3 separate regions of the Homo sapiens genome follow, and regions 1 and 2 are each linked to region 3. Evidence: fine-mapped expression QTL. A gene starts in region 3. Each other region holds a variant in brackets. All regions are shown on one strand. Distances are from middle to middle. Region 1 has its middle 9.6 kb from the start of LINC03129. Region 2 overlaps LINC03006 (long intergenic non-protein coding RNA 3006). Region 3 holds the start of GUSB (glucuronidase beta).

What was found. PIP is the estimated chance that this variant, and not a neighbour inherited with it, causes the effect. A credible set is the group of variants that fine-mapping cannot tell apart.
Region 1: its variant is the best candidate, but not a certain one, in a credible set for the expression of GUSB in monocytes after LPS (Fairfax 2014, PIP 0.59).
Region 2: its variant is the best candidate, but not a certain one, in a credible set for the expression of GUSB in thyroid (GTEx, PIP 0.53).

What each region holds. Positions count from the first base shown.
Region 1 is chr7:65,847,208-65,851,446 of GRCh38, reverse strand. No RefSeq gene overlaps it. Among named protein-coding and RNA genes, the nearest start is that of LINC03129, 9.6 kb to the right of the region's middle. The variant G/TTG (reference allele first, on the strand shown) is at 1,737.
Region 2 is chr7:65,719,002-65,723,240 of GRCh38, reverse strand. The region is part of intron 3 of LINC03006 (long intergenic non-protein coding RNA 3006); the gene reads left to right. Among named protein-coding and RNA genes, the nearest start is that of SNORA22, 34 kb to the left of the region's middle. The variant C/G (reference allele first, on the strand shown) is at 2,217.
Region 3 is chr7:65,980,484-65,984,683 of GRCh38, reverse strand. GUSB (glucuronidase beta) reads left to right here and starts at 2,471. Exons shown (of 12, transcript NM_000181.4): 1 at 2,471-2,710. The coding sequence starts at 2,501. RefSeq lists enhancers at 2,296-2,425, 3,882-4,200.

The sequences.
Region 1 (4,239 bases), 130 kb after region 3:
TACTAAAAATACAAAATTCGCCAGGTGTGGTGGTGCATGCCTGTAGTACCAGCTATTTGGGAGGCTGAGGCAGGAGAATTGCTTGAACCCAGGAGGCAGAGGCTGGTGAACCGAGATCGTGCCACTGCACTCCAGCCTGGGCAACAAGAGCGAAATTCTGTCTCAAAAAAAAAAAGTTGTTTTTACAGAGACAGGGGTCTCTGTATGTTGCCCACGCTGGTCTGAAACTGCTACCCTCAAGTGATCCTCCCTCTTCAGCCTCCCAAAGTGCTGGAATTACAGGCATAAATCACCATGCCCAGCCTTATTCTTTTTTAATTAGCTCAGTTTCAATTTCCTATTATAAAAATACCATCAAATAGAAAATGTCAATGTTAAGTAGGCTTTCCATGTAAAGGTGGCAAATCACAAAATCTCCCTTCCTTGATACTTATTCATTCATTTTTTTTTTTTGAGATGGAATCTCACTCTGTCACCCAGGCTGGGGTGTAGTGGCACAATCTTGGCCCACTGCAACCTCTGCCTCCCAAATTCAAGTGGTTCTCCTGCCTCAGCCTCCCAAGTAGCTGGGATTACAGGTGTGCACCACCATGCCCAGCTAACTTTTGTATTTTTAGCAGAGACAAGGTTTCACCATGTTGGCCAGGCTGGTCTCGAACTTCTGACCTGAGGTGATTCACCTGCCTTGGCCTCCCAAAGTGCTGGGATTACAGGCATGAGCCACCGCGCCTGACCCCTTGATACTTACTCATTCTAATGACATTTGTTGTGTGCCTACTATGTGCCAAGTACTATATTAGGTTCTGAGAATGAACAAGATGGGACTCCTGCCACAAGGAGCCTCTGTTCTGATTTGCCGTGAGTTTGGGAGGAGGATATGCAGACAAGCAGTTCAATAAATAACAAGCTGATTTTTTAGTGTGGTATCTGCTTTGAGAGAACCAGGCAGGACGAGGCAATGAAAAGGACGATGATTTTCTCTTCACAGGATGAGGGAGGATTTCTCGAGAGATGATGTGCGAGCTGAGGTCTGAAACATGAGAAAAATCCAGCTATGGCAGGAGGTATGGGAAGTCCATTTCGGGCAGGGGAGAGCATGTGCAAAGGTCCTGAAGAGGGAAACCACTTGGCATTCATTTACAGGAGCAGAAAAGAAGCCCAGATGCCTGATGCACACTGAGCAAGAGGAAAGGAATAGAGGGTGGCAGACAGGGTCCGATCATGCTAGGATTGGTTTGGTTTTTAAGAGACATGGTCTCACTCTGTCACCCAGGCTGGAGTGCAGTGGGGCAATCATAGCTCACTGCAGCCTCAACCTCCTGGGTTCAAGAGATCCTGTCACCTCAGCCTCCCAAGTAGCTGGGACTATAGGCCTGAGCCCCACCATGCCTGGCTAAGTTTTTTTATTGTTATTAGAGATGACAGTCTTGCTATGTTGCCTAGGTGGGTCTCAAACTCCTGGACTCAAGTGATCCTCCCATCCTGGCCTATAAAAGCACTGGAATTACAGGTGTGGGACACCACATCTGGCCAAGATTGGGGGTTTAAAAAATGCTTTACTTTTAATTTTTGTGGATACACAGTAGGTGTATATATTTATGGGGTGCATGAGACGTTTTGACACAGCATGTAATGTGTAATAATCACATCAGGGTGAATGGGATGCCCATCACCTCAAGCATTTGTCCTTTCTTTGTTTTACAATCTCCAATTATGCTTTTTTTTTTTTTTTTTTT[G/TTG]AGACAAAGTCCAGCTCTGTCATCGGGGCTGGAGTGCAGTAGCACAATCTTGGCTAACTGCAACCTCTGCCCCCTCAGTTCAAGTGATTCCCCTGCCTCAGCCTCCTGAGTAGCTGGGACTACAGGCGTGCACCACCACGCCCCGCTAATTTTTGTATTTTTAGTAGAGGTGGGGTTTCTCCATGTTGGCCAGGCTGGTCTTGAACTTCTGACCTCAGGTGATCAGCCCCCCTTGGCCTCCCAAAGTGCTGGGATTACAGGCATAAGCCACCACACCTGGCCTATTTAAGCTATTTTTAAATATACAATAAATTATTGTTTACTATAGTCATGCTGTTGTACTGCCAAATACTACATCTTATTCATTCTAACTGTATTTTTGTACCCATTAATCATTCCTGTGCACCCCCTCCAGCCCACTACCCTTCCCAGCCTCTGGTAACCATCATTCTGTTCTCTATCTTCATAAGTTCAATTATTTTAATTCTTAGCACCCACAAATGACTGAGAACATGCAAAATTTGTCTTTCTGTGTCTGGCTTATTTTAGTTAACATAATGATCTCCAGTTCTACTCATGTTGTTGCAAATAACAGGATTATATTCTTTCTCATGGCTGAATAATATTCCATTGTGTATATATACCACATTTTTTCTATCCATTCACCTGTTGATGGACACTTAAATTGCTTCCAAATCTTGGCTATTGTGAATAGTGTTGTAATAAATATAGAAATGCAGATATTTCTTCAATATACTGATTTTCTTCCTTTTGGGTATATATCCAGCAGTAAGATTATTGCATCATAAAGTAACTCTATTTTTCATTTTTTGAGGACCCTCCAAACCGTTCTCCATAGTGGTTGTACTAATTTACGTTCCCATCAACAGTGTATCAGGGTTCCCTTTTCTCCACATCCTCAATAGCATTTGGTATCGCCTGTCTTTTGGATATAAGCCATTTTAACTGGGGTAGGATGATAGCTCATTATAGTTTTGATTTGCATTTCTCTGATGATCGATGATGTTGAGCACCTTTTTATATACCTGTTTGCAATTTGTATGTCTTCTTTTGAGAAATATTTATTCTGATCTTTTGCCCATTTTAAAATCAGATTATTATATTTTTTCCCATTTATTTTTTTTCCACCTGAGCTCTTTATGTACTCTAGTTATTAATCCCTTGTCAGATGGATTCAGAATTGGGTTTTGACTTTTACACTCAATTCTAAATCATTAAATGCTGTCAAGTGGAGAACTGACATAATATTCGTATTGGAAGACCACTTTGTGTATCAGCTATCTATTGCTGTGTAACAAACCACTCCAAGCGTAATGGTATAAAGTTACAATGATGCTTATTAGTCTTCTCACAATACTGAAGGCTGACTAGACTCACCTAGGCAGTTCTGGCTTAGGATGTCTTATGTGGTTGCCTTCAAACAGTATGCAGTTAGAATAGTCTCAATGGTTTCCTTGCTCAAATATCTCCTGGTTAATGTGGGCTGTTAGCTAGGGCCTCAGCTGGGGCTATCTGGTGGAACACCCACACATCACCTCCATATGTGGCCTGGGCTTTCTCACAAAATGGTGAATGGGTTCTAAGTGCACCCATCCCAGGAAGGACAGCCAAGTGGAAACATCTTTTATGACCTAACTTTGGCAGATCACGAGCAACACTTCCATTGTATTCTACTTATAGAAGCAGGGGACTAAGTTCATATTCAAGGGAAGATTAACTAGATTTTTTATTTTTTTTGAGACAGAGTCTTGCTCTGTCACCCAGGCTGGAGTGCAGTGGCCCGATCTCAGCTCACTGCAACCTCCACCACTCAGGTTCAAGTGATTCTGCTGCCTCAGCCTCCTGAGTAGCTGGGACTACAGGCACAAGCCACCACGGCCAGCTAATTTTTGTATGTTTAGTAGAGATGGGGTTTCACCATGTTGGCGAGGATGGTCTCAATCTCCTGACTTCGTGATCCACCCACCTCGGCCTCCCAAAGTGCTGGGATTACAGGCGTAAGCCGCCACACCCAGCCTGAAACCAGATTCTATCTCTTGATGACAAGTGTAAAAAAATTTGTAGACGGCCGGGCGCGGTGGCTCACGCCTGTAATCCCAGCACTTTGGGAGGCCGAGGCGGGCGGATCACAAGGTCAGGAGATCGAGACCATCCCGGCTAAAACGGTGAAACCCCGTCTCTACTAAAACTACAAAAAATAGCCGGGCGTAGTGGCGGGCGCCTGTAGTCCTAGCTACTTGGGAGGCTGAGGCAGGAGAATGGCGTGAACCCGGGAGGCGGAGCTTGCAGTGAGCCGAGATCCCGCCACTGCACTCCAGCCTGGGCGACAGAGCGAGACTCCGTCTCAAAAAAAAAAAAAAAAAAAAAAAAAAAAAATTTGTAGACAACTATTCTTAACAGTGAAGAGATGGAATCAACCTATGTTTCTTTCCATCAATGGAAAAAAGAATAAAGGAAATGTGGCGGCCGGGCGCAGTGGCTC
Region 2 (4,239 bases), 260 kb after region 3:
GGACCCTCCTGCAAGAGGCTGAGTGGTGGCTCCAGAGCCGATGATGTCATCAGAGGAGCTGGGGCAGGATGGGGAGTGGGGAGGAGGGTCCAGTCATATTAGGCAATGCACAGATCTGGGGGGAGGCCTATAGCACAGAGGCTCTGTCCTTTGAGGGTGACTGAACCAACAGGGGAAAGCGAGGCATGGTGAAAATAGCCATGGATGGCCAGCTGTGGTGGCTCACACCTGTAATCCCAGCACTTTGAAAGGCTGAGGAGGATGGATCACCGGAGGTCAGGGGTTCAAGACCAGCCTGGCCAACATGGGGAAGCCCCGTCTCTACTAAAAATACAAAATTAGCCAGGCTTGATGGTGGGCACCTGTAATCCCAGCTGCTTGGGAGGCTGAGGCAGGAGAATTGCTTGAACCCAGGAGGCAGAGGTTGCAGCGAGCTGAGATCACATCACTGCACTCCAGCCTGGGCAACAAGAGCGAAACTCTGTCGGGAAGGGGAGAGGAGGGGAGGGGAGGGGAGAAGGAAGGAAGGATCGAAAGAAAGACAAAGAAGGAAGGGAGAGAGAGAGGGGGAAAGAAAGAAAGAAAAGAGAAAGAAAGAAAAAAAAAGGAAGGAAGGAACGAAGGAAAAAGGGAAGGAGGAAGGAAGGAAGGAAAGAAAGAAAGAAAAGGTAAGAAAGAAAACCGTGGATGACCGCAGACGGCCACAGGTGACATTTCAAGCTGTGAATTTGGAGAGAGAGGGCGCTCCAGGCAACTGTGGGGTGACTGCTCCCCCTGGTGGCCATATATGGCTAAAGCAAGTAGAAGTCCAGACACACCTGGAGAACAGGTGCCATCGCCTGAAAGCAACCGTAACCACGACAACAAGGCCAGGTGCAGAACCCAGGTCTCCCCCCTTTATTAGAACCTGTGGAGAGATCATGAATGTATTCTCCGATATGTTTATTTTCAGGGGTTAAAAAAAAAATCTCCCCAGTGTCACTTCTCCCAGGAACGTGTGTATGTGAATGGCTTAAAAACTGTTGCCCTTGACAAAGAAATGTACCAATCTCCAATGACAGAATATTTAATCGAGGAAAGGTCTCATTAACAGATGTTAATTAATCTCCTTAACAGATGTTAAGGAGAACTGCAAACCACTGTTCAATGAAATAAAAGAGAATACAAACAAATGGAACAACATTCCACGCTCATGGGTTGGAAGAATCAATATCGTGAAAATGGCCATACTGCCCAAGGTAATTTATAGATTCAATGCCATCCCCATCAAGCTACCAATGACTTTCTTCACAGAATTGGAAAAAACTACTTTAAAGTTCATATGGAACAAAAAAGAGCCCGCATCGCCAAGTCAATCCTAAGCCAAAAGAACAAAGCCAGAGGCATCATGCTACCTGACTTCAAACTATACTACAAGGCTACAATAACCAAAACAGCATGGTACTGGTACCAAAACAGAGATATAGATCAATGGAACAGAACAGAGTCCTCAGAAATAACACCACATATCTACAACCATCTGATCTTTGACAAACCTGACAAAAACAAGCAGTGGGGAAAGGATTCCCTATTTAATAAATGGTGCTGGGAAAACTGGCTAGTCATATGTAGAAAGCTGAAACTGGATCCCTTCCTTACACCTTAGACAAAAATTAATTCAAGATGGATTAAAGACTTACATGTTAGAACTAAAACCATAAAAACCCTAGAAGAAAACCTAGGCAATACCATTCAGGACATAGGCATGGGCAAGGACTTCATGTCTAAAACACCAAAAGCAATGGCAACAAAAGCCAAAATTGACAAACGGGATCTAACTAAACTAAAGAGCTTCTGCACAGCAAAAGAAACTACCATCAGACTGAACAGGCAACCTACAAAATGGGAGAAAATTTTCGCAACCTACTCATCCAACAAAGGGCAAATATCCAGAATCTACAATGAACTCAAATAAATTTACAAGAAAAAAACAAACAACCCCATCAAAAAGTGGGCGGAGGATATGAACAGACACTTCTCAAAAGAAGACATTTATGCAGCCAAAAAACACATGAAAAAATGCTCATCATCACTGGCCATCAGAGAAATGCAAATCAAAACCACAATGAGATACCATCTCACACCAGTTAGAATGGCGATCATTAAAAAGTCAGGAAACAACAGGTGCTAGAGAGGATGTGGAGAAATAGGAACACTTTTACACTGTTGTTGGGACT[C/G]TAAACTAGTTCAACCATTGTGGAAGTCAGTGTGGCGATTCCTCAGGGATCTAGAACTAGAAATACCATTTGACCCAGCCATCCCATTACTGGGTATATACCCAAAGGACTATAAATCATGCTGCTATAAAGACACATGCACACGTATGTTTATTGCGGCACCATTCACAATAGCAAAGACTTGGAACCAACCCAAATGCCCAACAACGATAGACTGGATTAAGAAAATGTGGCACTTATACACCATGGAATACTATGCAGCCATAAAACATGATGAAACTGGAAACCATCATTCTCAGCAAACTATCACAAGGACAAAAAACCAAACACCGCATGTTCTCACTCATAGGTGGGAATTGAACAATGAGAACACATGGACACAGGAAGGGGAACATCACACCCCGGGGACTGTTGTGGGGTGGGGGGAGGGGGGAGGGATAGCATTTGGAGATATACCCAATGCTAAGTGACAAGTTAATGGGTGCAGCACACCAACATGGCACATGTATACATATGTAACAAACCTGCACATTGTACACATGTACCCTAAAACTTAAAGTATAATAATAATAAAATAAAATAAAATAAATAGTTAATGAATGGAGTTCTGCAGGCTTTGCTTTAAAGAACAGATCTACAGTATTTTATTGGGGAATGTAATCTCAGTGTCATCTCTGAGGCATGTTTACTGCTATATCTCTATCGAGCACCTGAAGTAAGTAGTGCCTGGAACAGAGGAATGACTCAGGGTGTGGTGACTGGACTGGATGGCACTTTCAAAGCACTGGACCTGTCCCACGATGGGGCAGTGAGTTTCCCGTCCCTCTACCTATAAGGTACCTAAAAGGTTTAGCCTTGCGTGTGGTAGATGTGCTTTGAAGGGGGTTTAGGAGACAGTCTAGGAGATGACCCTTAAGTAACCTGCCTACAATCTCCTTTACACTCAGGTGATCAGTGAAGTTTTTTTTCAGGGACAATGTAAAACAGTAGTTCTGCTGGTATCACTGACTACGTATTAGAATCACCTATGAACTCTTAAACACTAGTGCCCATAGGCCCTATTCTCAGGATTTTGATTTAATTAATGTAGGCTGACACCTATTCATCTGTTCTTAATGCTTTCTGAGTAATCCTAAAGTGCAGTGAAGGTGGACAACCACTAATGTGGAAAAAAACAAAACAAAACAAAAACACTCCAATATGCAATACAACTTCACAGCTAGCTCAGAACTAGTTCTCTGCAGGTCTCATAATTTATAATAATTTCTGCTTGGAAGCCAGAAGGCCCGTTCCTTTATTGTCACCATAGCCGAAAAGCGTAATCTTCAAGGCCTGATTCATCCTTACCTCCTCCAGGAAGCCTTCTCTGCCTGTTCCAGCCTATTTTTCTGTCCCCTTATTGTACTTCCTGCCAGTGCTTGCATCCCTGCTTTGACTCATATCCCTTTGGCCCTTCTCTCATATCCCTTGTGCCCTTCTCCTTTCCTTTCCTGAGCCTCCACCACACTCCAAATTGAATACTCTAAAAGGTTTAGCCCTGCATGTGGTAGAGGTGCTTTGAAAGGGTTTTTTAGGAGACAGTCTAGGAGATGACCCATCCTGTGCATGTCTACTCACCAAACCCTGTTTTATAATTGCCTGCCCATTTGTATGTCTCTGAATGAAACTGTGTACACCCCGAGAGGAAGAACTGTGATATATTTACCTTGGCAACCACAGCACTTAGTGCATGCAATAGAGTAAACACAATTGCACAAATGGATGGAAGGAAGGATGAATGAGTGGACAGATGGATGAATGAAGGAGTAGTACTCTTTGTGGGGCTTAACTGCACTGTCTGAATTGATTAGTGTCTCTACTACATTTCTCATGTGTCTCTATTACATCTATGTAACTTGGGAAAGAATATTTCCTAGTAATCGCTTTTTCCCATCCATAAATTTTATCTGCCAGCTGACTGACTCACAGCCTGAAAGGAACTTGTTTATTATAGTTTTCTGTAATAAAAGACCAAATCTTAACG
Region 3 (4,200 bases):
AATGTACTTATTTTCACTATGCTGGGGACTCCATTTCCAGTATTGAGGTCCATTTTCAGAAGGTGGATTTGGTGAGCATGAAAAAAGGGGGTGGGGGAGTAATCATACAAACAATTGTGTCCAGGCCAGCTTCCTAGGACATGAGGGCTCCCTCTGTATGGCAGAGGCACCTGACATCCGTAACTGTTGTGCACCCTGCGAATGACTTTATGGTCTAAGAATGTATGTTCAGAGCCCCAGCTAAGGAATCAGGAGTGGCAAGATCCTGGAAGGATGCCAATCTATGAAACCCTGAGTCAAGAGGTCAAGCTGGGCACTTGTTTTCCTTTTTCTTTTTTTTTGTAGGAGTTTCACTCTTGTTGCCCAGGCTGGAGTACAATGGCGTGATCTCGGCTCACTGCAATCTCTGGTTCAGGCGATTCTCTCACCTCAGCCTTCCCGAGTAGCTGGGATTACAGACATGTGCCACCATGCCCAGCTAAATATGGAGATGCGGTTTCTCCATATTGGTCAGGCTGGTCTCGAACTCCCAACCTCAGGTGATCTGCCTGCTTCAGCCTCCCAAAGTGCTGGGATGACAGGCGTGAGCCACCGCACCTGGCCAAGGCACTTGGTTTCTTAGATCACCCACTTGGCCCTCTTCCAAGTTGTACTTTCCTTCTTTCCTTCCTGTTCTAAAGTTTTTTAATATTTTTTTTTTTCCTGAAATGGCATCTCACTCTGTAGCCCAGGCTGGAGTGCGGTGGCGTGATCTCAGCTCACTGCAACCTCTGCCTCCTGGGTTAAAGCATTTCTCCTGCCTCAGCCTCCCAAATAGTAGGGATTACAGGTGCCTGCCACCACGCCTGGCTAATTTTTGTATTTTTAGTAGAGATGGGGTTTCTCCACGTTGGCCAGGTTGGTCTCAAACTCCTGATATCAAGTGATCCTCCCGCCTTGGCCTCCCAAAGTGCTGGAGTTTGGAGTTACAGGCCTGAACCTCTGTGCCTGGCCTGCTTTTTTTTTTAGACTGAGTCTTGCTCTCTCGCCAGGCTGTAGTGCTGTGGTGCGATCTCGGCTGACTGCAACCTCTGCCTCCCGCGTTCAATCGATTCTCCTGCCTCAGCCTCCCGAGTAGCTGGGACTACGGGCGCATGCCACCATGCCCAGCTAATTTTTTAGTAGAGATGGGGTTTCATCATATTGGCCAGGCTGGTCTCAAACCCCTGACCTCGTGATCCCCCCACCTCCGCCTCCCAAAGTGCTGGGATTACAGGTGTGAGCCACTACGCTCAGCACTGGCCTGCTTTTTAACAAGCTTTTACTACTGCTCTGCAGCTTACCTCCCTCTGGCTTTCTGCCTTATGCCCCTCAGTGCAATTCTTTCTTCTGAGGAGGCAAGAATTGAGGTTGTTGCTGATGTGTAGGGATTCACCACCCGGAACTCCACCAGTAACAGGTCGAGGATGCTAGTTGAAAATGTTATGTAAGCTGCATGCTTTTTACAAATGGTAGTGGTTCTCATGTCCAGCAATGGCCACTGCACCGTCCCTGTATGAAAGTCCCCTCCATAAATCTATGTCTCCTTTGCTGTCTCCAGATCTCCTCCTCTACCTCTCCCACACGGTGCCTTCCCTACTGGAGTAAACTGGGGTCCCGCAGGGCACCCTTTCCCTGCAATTTTTTTTTTTTTTTTGAGACAGAGTCTCGCTCTGTTGCCCAGGCTGGAGTGCAGTGGTGCGATCTCGGCTTACTGCAGCCTTTGCCTCCCGGGTTCAAGCGATTCTCCTACCTCAGCTTCCTGAGTAGCTGGGATTACAGGCACGCACCATCACGCCCCGCTAATTCTTTTTTTTTTTTTTGTATGTTTACAAAATAGGGACGGGGTTTCACTATCGTTGGCCAGGCTGGTCTCGAACTCCTGGCCTCAAGTGATCTGCCCCCCTCGGGTTCCCAAAGTGCACCTGGCCTCTCTCCCTGCATCTTTATGTGCCTGCAACACCAAGAGGGAGCTCTTGGCCCCTGGGTTAAGGTCAGGGCTCCAGAAGCCCAGGGTCAAGGCTATGGCCGCATCCCAAGGACGTGCATCCCTGCAAGAGGCTGCATCAGACAGGCATGGAAGAGGCGCCGCTGGGGCCTCCTTGAATTCCTGCTGGGAAAAGCAAGTGGAGGTGCTCCTTGAAGAAACAGGGGGATCCCACCGATCTCAGGGGTTCTGTTCTGGCCTGCGGCCCTGGATCGTCCAGCCTGGGTCGGGGTGGGGAGCAGACCTCGCCCTTATCGGCTGGGGCTGAGGGTGAGGGTCCCGTTTCCCCAAAGGCCTAGCCTGGGGTTCCAGCCACAAGCCCTACCGGGCAGCGCCCGGCCCCGCCCCTCCAGGCCTGGCACTCGTCCTCAACCAAGATGGCGCGGATGGCTTCAGGCGCATCACGACACCGGCGCGTCACGCGACCCGCCCTACGGGCACCTCCCGCGCTTTTCTTAGCGCCGCAGACGGTGGCCGAGCGGGGGACCGGGAAGCATGGCCCGGGGGTCGGCGGTTGCCTGGGCGGCGCTCGGGCCGTTGTTGTGGGGCTGCGCGCTGGGGCTGCAGGGCGGGATGCTGTACCCCCAGGAGAGCCCGTCGCGGGAGTGCAAGGAGCTGGACGGCCTCTGGAGCTTCCGCGCCGACTTCTCTGACAACCGACGCCGGGGCTTCGAGGAGCAGTGGTACCGGCGGCCGCTGTGGGAGGTGCGATCTCGGGGCAGGGCCGGGAGGCGCCCGAAAGCCCGGCGGTGGGAGTAGGGGAGCCCGGGCCCCCCGCAGACTTCTTCCCCTGGGCGTCTCCGAGCTGGGGCCCGCAGGAGGTTAAAGGTCAACGGGCTTGGGGGCGCCGGCTTGGGGGACGGGGGAACAGGAGCACCCTGGAGGGCCGGGGCGGATTAGGCAGGAGGAGAAAAGGCTCTTGCCGAGCCCTTTCCCGAGGTAAAGGCTGAGTCTGTGCAGTATCCTTCCTTTCAATATTTATTTTTAATTTTTAAAAATTTTTTTGAGACTGGGTTTGCACCTGTTTCCCAGGCTGGGGCGGAGTGGCGCCAGCCTAACTTCTGAGCTCAAGCGATTCTCCCGCCCCAGCCTTGCAATTTAGGGGGTGCCAACACGCCTGGCTAATTGAAAAAAAAAAAATTATCTGGGCTCGGTGGCTCACACCTGTAATCCCAGCACTTTGGGAGGTGGAGGCGGGCGAATCGCCTGAGGCCAGGAGTTTGAGACCAGGCTGGCCAACATAACAGGGTGAAACCTCATCTCTACTAAAAATATAAAAATTAGCCAAGTGTGGTGGTTCATGCCTGTAATCCCAGCTACTTGGGAGGCTGAGTCAGGAGAATTGCTTGAACCCGGGAGTAGAGGTTGCAGTGAGCTGAGATCAGGATGCCACTGCACTCCAACTTGGGCGACATAGTGAGACTACGTCTCCAAAAAAAAAAAAAAGGCAAAAAAACTTAAAAAAAAAAAAAAGATACAGGGTGTCACTATTTACCCAGGGTGGTCTCGAACTCCTGGCCTCAAGCCATCCTCCCACGTTGACCTCCCAAAGCGCTGATTACTGGCATGAGCCACCCACACACTCTGGCCACAGCGGCATGCACTGCACAGAGCTGGGCCCGGGGATCGGGAGAAGGTGACAGTTTAGATGTCCTGAGGTCAGCTCTGCCGAGGCAGGAAGTCCCTTGGTTTTCAAGGTTCACATAGAGGACAGGACATGACATCAGGCCCAGGACGCCACCCCTGTTCCCCTCCTGACTTGGATGTGATCTGCAGAGAAGTGGAACTGGGTGAGGTCTGGGCGGCTTTTGCCTGGTCTACATCCTCTTATTCTGACTTTGCAGCATTCAGTACAGGAGGGAAAGAGGAGGGGGCTGGGTGCCAGTGTGCACCCCACTCACAGTGTCCTAAGCAAAGCTCCCCCCATTCCTCCAACCAGCCTTCCTCCCTGTGACAGGCAGTGGCCATCTGCCTCTTAGTCACAGGTCTGAACCTTCTTGCCTCTGGCTGGGATGTGGCCCTGGGCTTGCTCCTGTCTCAGGAGATATTGTGCCCCATCCACTCTGAGGAGGAACTCCTGGCCCCACTGGCCCAGGTGCACAGATCGCCCTGGCAGTTGACCTGTCATCAGCAAGTTATCTGTCCTTTCTGCCAAGAATCCCCGCTATGTGTCAGGGCTTGTGCTAGGCCTGGGG